2 linked regions of the Homo sapiens genome follow. The protein of the gene in region 2 purifies or fractionates together with the protein of the main gene of each other region. This does not show direct contact. Each region holds a gene or a part of one and is shown on either strand. Other genes may lie near its edges.

Evidence for each region. Proteins that work in one complex are often made in the same cells at the same time.
Region 1: the proteins of HOXD3 (region 2) and CTH purify together in Homo sapiens (affinity purification with mass spectrometry; one large-scale study listed by BioGRID and IntAct). This does not show direct contact.

The regions. Positions count from the first base shown.
Region 1 is NC_000001.11:70,424,768-70,428,267, reverse strand, and holds part of CTH (cystathionine gamma-lyase), read right to left. Parts: intron 1-3,500. UniProt on the Homo sapiens protein: Catalyzes the last step in the trans-sulfuration pathway from L-methionine to L-cysteine in a pyridoxal-5'-phosphate (PLP)-dependent manner, which consists on cleaving the L,L-cystathionine molecule into L-cysteine, ammonia and 2-oxobutanoate.
Region 2 is NC_000002.12:176,155,885-176,160,106, forward strand, and holds the start of HOXD3 (homeobox protein Hox-D3), read left to right. Parts: upstream 1-1,422; 5' UTR 1,423-1,568; intron 1,569-1,583; exon of another isoform or gene 1,584-2,050; intron 2,051-3,366; exon of another isoform or gene 3,367-4,053; intron 4,054-4,222. UniProt on the Homo sapiens protein: Sequence-specific transcription factor which is part of a developmental regulatory system that provides cells with specific positional identities on the anterior-posterior axis.

The DNA of each region.
Region 1 (3,500 bases), on a different chromosome or scaffold from region 2:
ATTGACCATCCTCTGTCCTCCCCACCTCCACCCTCCCTTCCCCAGACTCTAGTAACCGCTGTTCTATTCACTACTTCTATGAGATCAACATTTTTTACATTCCACACATGAATGAGATCATGCTATATATGTCTGTCTGTGCCTGGCTTATTTCACTTAACATAATGTCCTCTAGGTTAATCCTGTAGTCTTAAAATGTATTTGTTTACAACCAGAGTGAAAAGTGTAGACTTTCCACTTAATAAAACACTGTCAAGCCGGGAGTGGTGGTTCACGCCTGTAATCCCAGCACTTTGGGAGGCCTAGGCAGGTGGATCACTTGAGGTCAGGAGTTTGAGACCAGCCTGGCCAACATGGTGAAACCCCATCTCTACTAAAAATACAAAAATTAGCGGGGGGTGGTGGTGGAAACCTGTAATCCCAGCTACTCGGGAGGCTGAGACAGGAGAATTGCTTGAACCGGGGAGGCGGTGGTTGCAGTGAGCTGAGATCGCGCCACTGCACTCCAGCCTGGGCGACAGAGCAAGACTCCATTTCAAAACAAACAAACAAACAAAAACATACATTATCAACATCTTTCCCTTTACATTTTCCTAAACATAGAACTGTGTGTTTTTATTTCACCCTCATTAGAGCTGTTTAGTCTTTGGAAGATATTAGTATAGGTGGCTATGGGAACTTTTCATTTAGGGTTCCTAAAGGGATGGGGTCAAAGTAGGTGAGGCCTAAGGTCTTTTCTAGTGCTAACATTCTGTAAACTCTACAGCCAAAAGAGAAGGAAAAATAAAAACCAAATCACTAACACCTCTGATCTCATTATCTTCTGAGAATCATGCTACGTACTTTATATAACCCAGGGAAGCAGTGTACAAAATACCTAACTCAATAAAATCAGTACCTTTATGGCTCTCATCATACAGGTGAGGAAAGGGGACTAAGAAAAATGAGATAGATCCCTCAGATTAAAAAGCTGGTAGAGCCAGGACTCACACCCAGACTGCCTGACTCCAGAGGTGCTACTCTGAAACTTGATGATGGTAGGTCTATTTTGCCTTTCGTGAGACTTACAGAAGATCCAGAGGACAAAAGACTGGGAAGAAAGAGAATATATTCCATTTTCATTAAGGTAAGACAATGAGAAGATTTTTTTCAGGAAGATTTGCTTCATGGAAACAACACATGTGGCTACTTAGGGATGATGCGATTCTGAGTATTTCAGCTGGAATAAATCCAAATTGAAATGAAGCAAATTCCAATCATTGGCATGCGGAATGTGATGTGGGCTTCAAAAAGGTAGAAAAACTAGACCTATGTTAGTGACAGTAATAGGAGAAAGAGGGCCAGGTTTGATGAGTAACCCGGGCAGGTCCAGGCTACAAAACGTATGCAATCTTTTTGGGAATATACAGGACTCACTGTGTCTCAGCTAAAGCTATCCTATGCTGTATTAACTGGCCTAATGTAAGTGGCATATGGGCTAAGGAGTTGCGATAAGGAATCTTACACTGAAAACCACCTGGGACAAATAGAAGATGCCAAATAGACAATGCCAGAAGATTTTTCACTGGGAAACAGACTGCTTTACCTGATAAAATCAGCAATCAAAGATACATTATGAGCCAAAGGCAGATGGCCCACGAAGGTGTCTGAATGCAATGTAGCCAGGAAGTGTGCTTCAGGAAAGGAAAATAAACCATGACAATGCCTTCGAATAAAATGGAGGAAGGTGAAAAGCAGGTTTATACCAACTGCCCAGGGAGTCAGCCAGTCACATGGAGGCAGCAACCTGGATCAACTTCAGGGACCCAGAACAGAAGGGGGGAAATGTAAACAATAAAACCTGTAAACATCTGCCCAATTGAAGAGCCAGAGAAAATGAGCTGGTTTTCAGGAACTCTGCAGAATAGAGATGAACTACAGGAAGTGTACTAAGTATGACAAGGTACAGGCAGGAAGAAAAGAGCAGGAAGAAGGTATCTCCTAACAAGGAAAGGAAAGAGTTGGGTTACTCAGAGGAAAGAGAGGGAGAACTTGTGTGGAAAAGGCAGGAAACAAGTTAATTATAAAGAGATCCCAAAGTGATCTACAAAAGAAAGTGAAACACAAAAGAGGATGAAACTAGACACAAGACAGAGAAAAAAGGAAAGGATAGATGTATGGGAGGGGTGGTCTGGGGAGGAAACAAATGCAGAGGGGGCTAGGTAGCGAAAGAAATCTTTAAAGAGAGCTGCTATGGTCTGAACATTTGTGTCCTCCAAAATTCATAGATTGAAATCTAATCACTAGTATGATTAGGAGGTGGGCCTTTGGGAGGTGATTAGGGTGATTTTTGCCTGATATGGTTTGGATCTGTGTCGCCACCAAATCTCATGTTGAGTTGTAATCCCCAAATGTTGGAGGTGGGGCCTGGAGGGAGGTGATTAGTTCATGAGGGTGGATATATCATGAATGGTTTAGAGTCATCTCCCCTTGGGACTGTCCTCACAATTGTGAGTGAGTTCTTGTGAGATTTGGTTGTTTAAAAGTGTGTAGCACCTTCCCCCTCGTTCTCTCTCTTGCTCCTACTCTGGTCATGTGTTGTGCCTGCTCCCCTTTGCCTTCTGCCATTATTGTAAGTTTTCTGAGGCCTCCCCAGAAGCCAAGCAGATGCCAGCATCATGCTTTCTGTACAGCCTGCAGAACTGTGAGCCAATTAAACCTCTTTCTTTATAAATTACGCAGTCTCGGATTATTTCTTTATAGCAGTGTGAGAATGGACTAATACAGTGCCCTGATAAAAGAGGCCCCAGATAACTGCCTTGTCTCTTCTACCATGTGAGGACACAGCGAGAAGGCTCCATCTATGGACCAGAAAGTGGGCCCTCACCGGTACTGAATCTGCTGGCACTTTGATTGAGGACTTCCCAGCCTTCAGAACTGTGAGAAATAAATTGCTGTTTGTAAGCCACCCAGTTTATAGTATTCTGTTATGGCCACCCAAAGAGACTAACATAAGAGCACTATAAATACTTACAGCTATAATGTAAAATAAATAAAGTAAAAGTTCAAAATAATAATAAGTTAAAGAGATCTAGGCATAGTATATGGAGTGCTGAAGGAATAAAAACTAGAAGAAGAGAAATAATATGTATAATATATACTGAAATCATTGAGCATCACTTTTCTTTTAGAATATATATAAAAATATTCAAGGTGACTGAAAAATATGACTGATTTGTAATCAATGCATAAACATTCAAGTCCTTACTATGCATAAGGTATTAGCAGATACAATCACATAATAAGGCCATTTCTTCAGAGTTTACACACTCTAAGAGAACTCGTAAGCTTTTTTTTTTTGAGACAGAGTCTCACCCTGTCACCCAGGCTGGAGTGCACTGGCGTCATCTCAGCTCACTGCAAGCTCCGCCTCCCGGGTTCATGCCATTCTCCTGCCTCAGCCTCCCGAGTAGCTGGGACTACAGGCACCCGCCACTGCGCCCAGCTAATTTTTTGTATTT
Region 2 (4,222 bases):
CATCGCAGCCTTTTGTTGGGAGATGACACTGTCAGTCAGCCCATGATGTCTGTTCACACGAGATGCTTTTTTAATAGAATTGACCAATGTTTTGCTGCCACTGATTAAAGTATTATTTATACTAATTGTTGCTTGTAGTTTTGATGTAATTCATTGATCTATATTTAAAATAATAAAAGGTGTAGCAAAATCTCCCTCCTGTTTGGTGCCTTAACAGAAGCATTCATCCTTTGTTAAGTCTTCTAAAAGCTAACATTTAACATAAACAAGTTATTATTTTCTGCAATAAATTAGGCACCATTTTTTGGGGGGTGCCTAAAGTGTGAAGGTTAAACCATGTAAGGCTTAGCAATTCTATTATTACCACCTCCTTAATGTACACACACTCCCAGTTGGCCACCATATTTTGTGAGCATTGGGAAGCCTGGGGTTGAATTCAGGGTACAGAGTGTTGGGTGTTAATTTTTTGAAGAAAAAGTAATTGCCCAGGTTAATAGGGGGATCCAGGTTGGCATTCTGCTGGGCCCGGGCCAGGCCCCAGACCTTTTTGGTCTGGAAGCCCTCAGAGGAAGTCTTTGGGAAGTGGTGGATGAGACACCTTACTGGTCCCCCACCCCTAAGGCAGGGAGAGCGTGCTGGGTTCTGGGCCGAGCTGAGGCTCCTGGGTGGCTGCTCTGACCTGACCCCCGGGCCTCCACTCTTGGGCTTCTACTTTTCCAGTACTGTTAAGCTCCTGTGGGGACTCCAGCACCTGCCCCTCCTTCTTCCGCGCCCCCTCCACCCCTCAGGCAACAATAAACACTCCCCACTATAAAAAGTGCCCTGCACTACATTTACCGCAAGGGCTTCTTTACATCTTGGCCTCGCCTTGAAGAAGGGGCCAAGACAGGAGTCCCAAAATAGATGGGGGTGCTTGTTCCAGACAGGAAATGAGCAGAATGCATAAAATCAGACATCTGTCCTTAATATATGGAAGGGCTTGCCCCAGACGCGTGGACATGTGTATTTATAAGTGCGCAGGCAGAAGTTTAAATATTCAGACACATTTTATGATTGTCCTCTGCCCGTCTTCTGCTTAATGGCTCCTCCCGTGCCCACCAATACATCAATACCGTTGTGTGTATTGAATCGCGGGCAGGGATGAGGAGGAAGCGAGTCCATAGCAGAGCCCGCTGAGTATAGAGTACAGTAAATCGGGACCCTCGGCGGACGGCGCTTCCCGCCCGCCTGCCCGCCATGTTGGGGAGCCCTCCCTGCCCCCCGCGCCGGGCTGGGCGGCCGGGGCTCGCTGGCAGCCGGGGGAGGGCCTTTCATAACCCGGAGAATTTTCTAAGTGCGAGGAAGATGATAAGAATAGATTTCTACAAGTCCCGACCACGTGATTGGCGAAATAATTAATTCAGCACGTCCCTTAAGAAACACGGAGTCGTCATTAATCTGCCACGCAAAGGGCTCTCTCCGACTTGGAAAGTGCAGGGATCCCAAGAATATCACCCGTCCAGGGGGGCCGCGCGGTGCCCCCGGCCCTCCACCCCCGGCCCCCGGCGGGCGCGGGAGCGCGGCCGCAGGTAAATATTTTGGCAACTTTTATTTCATCAGATTTAAATCCTTAATGAACTTAGCTGTCACGGCCGCTGACAAATAGTTCCCTTTGCTTCCTGATTTGGAACTGCGCGCCGGCGAGAAGTTGTTAGTGGCTTGGATGGTGACCTTTGGTTCAGCAAAGCTTTGCACTTATGAAAAATTACTGAGAGCGGCCGAGTGTGTGTGTGTGTGCGTGCGTCCGCGCGCGCGCTTGTGTGTGTGAGAGAGGGAGAGACAGAGACAGAGACAGAGATAGGGAGAGGGTGTGTGTGCGAGGCGCTAGGGTGCCAGGGGGCGAGGGGTGAGGGGCGAGGTGCACGCGGGCTGCTCCAAGACAACAGGAGTTGTAAAAAACCGGCCCGGCTGGCGGACGCGCCTGGCGCACGCGGGCCGAGGTTGCCTGGTCGCCTGTGTCTACCAGGAACAATGGTCGCTGTCACGGCATCTGCCGCCTATTCTTAAACCGGTGAGAAAAGGCCCTGGCCCTCTTTTCAAGCGAGGGTCGTAAATTTTTCTTTGCGTCATAATAGAAGGCTATAAAATCGAGTTGAAATTTTACCCCAGGCAGGTTTTAACCAACAGATAATGATTTCCGAGTTGCCTCTCCCCCCGCTCCTCTCTCCCCACCCAAGTTCTGCTGCCTCTGTCACCCCAGCGAGTTTCTTCTTCTTTCCCGTTTATTTTTGTGTTTGTATTTTTTATTTCTATTTTGGAAGAGCTAAAATAAACGCGAGAAGAAGTCCCTGCAGCCCGAGTGGGAGACCCCGGGGCGACGGGAAGCCTGGGGAAAGGAGGATGGGGGAGAGGCCAGTGCGGGCTGCAGAAGGCTGTTTCTCTGCTCGCTCCCGTTTCTGCCTTTTTTCACCGGCACTCCAAGAAAATTGGGTGTCCTAAGAGCCACTCCGCTCCGTTCCACCCCATCCCCAGCTTGCCAGGGTCGTGGGCTGGGGCAGTAGCGAGCATTCTTTTCTTCCAGCTTGCAGCTCCGACCCGGGCGCCTCTTCATTCGCCTCCTTCCCTCTTGTTGCTGTGAGATACCTCCATTGGCTTTCAGAATGATTTCAGCGAGCAGGGGCTGGCTGCGCGTGGTGGTTGTTTTGGGATTATGTGTGCGTGTGTGTTTGTGTGTGTGTGTGTTTTCATTTATTTTTTGGTGTGTGTATATTTCCCCGTCAGGACAGAAACAAAGTTTCCCCCATTATGAATTATACATTCAAACAATAACACATTAATTCAATTATTCAAAGATGACAAATGTTTATGTGCTTTGCGAGTGACTCGGGCGCAGATTCCAGGCGCTTTCTCTGAGCTGCTTGCATTTTTCTCAATGAGAATCGTCTCCCCTCCCACCCCCCCCACTCCAACCCACTCCAACCCACCTAGATATCCCCTTGTAGGCCCAGAGAGGAACCCACAAAAAGCTTCCCCAGCCCTGCTGGCAGCCCGGCAGCCAACAGCCTCCCAAGGCCCCGGCTTGGCGGGCACTGGCCCGGGCTATTTTATCAGTGTGACAATTGCCCGGGTTGGTGTGATAAATCATCGTAAGTAATTCCTGAAAGGGTGCGAGACTGTTGGGGGCCGGGCGAGGACTGTAAATCTTTCCGGTTTATTGCTCTATGAACATATGCTCCGATTGAAGAAGGCTTAGATCCTTTCCTGGAGACAAATTCCCGCAAAGCAGCCCCCCTCTTTGGCTGGGGATTAACACTTGCTGCTGGCCGTCAGGTCGGCCTCTGGCAAGAGGCTAGGGGGCGGGGTCCTCCGGGTGGGGGTGGGCTGGGGTCACCCACGATCCGGCTTCGAGAGACGCCCCGAGTGGGCCTCTGGCCAGGCCCGGCCAGGTGAACAAAAGGATGGGCTCGTAGACGGTTCTGGGGGCTCGGGCCTCCAGGACATTCCTGCGCCTCTGGAGTGGGGATGCGGTGGACCTTACCCACTCCTCTGGGGCTCTTCTATGGCTGCTGGGCACTTTCACCGGTCTCAGACCCTGCAATCAGCAACAGAGCATTTCACTGTGCCTGATGCCGCTGAGCAGAGCTGGCAACGAAACCAAAACTTCGGGGACAGGGTGGAGAGTTCCCCGTGGTGCGGGATTCCCGAGTGTGGCCCCGGCTGGGGGAGGGTCTTGGGCGCTCATTACAGGCCAGGAGGTCCGCTGCTGGCGCTGGCACGCTTAATTCTTTTTTCCCACATTGCAGAATCATTCCCACCAGCCACTCGGAGAGTGGTGGGAATCTGTCTTGGTTTAATATTTCTAAAATATAAGTTTCATTGTCCCCCAGGTTAGCCCAGCCAGGACTCATTGCGCAGTCCTCCTCGCCTTCCTGGAGGCGCCGCAGGAAGCGGGAAGTCGCGGCTTGGCGGTTGCTGGGCCTGTGGGATCTGCGGGTCCTGCCCAGACCTGGAGTCGCACAGATCACGGCGGGCAGTGGCTCAGCGCCTAGGCGGCTCCAGGCCTCGAAGGACCAGGTTGGGGTGCTCAGGGATCAGAGAGGGGAGGTCGCTCTGGGTCCGGGTCGCCTGCTACGCGCCTTTTCTGTCTCAGAAGTGGCGGTGACTCGGCTGCTGAGTCCGCGGAACGAGCCACGGAATGGTGGTGGTGGCGGGGTTTTCTGAGGTGACTGGCCAGAGCTGAGAG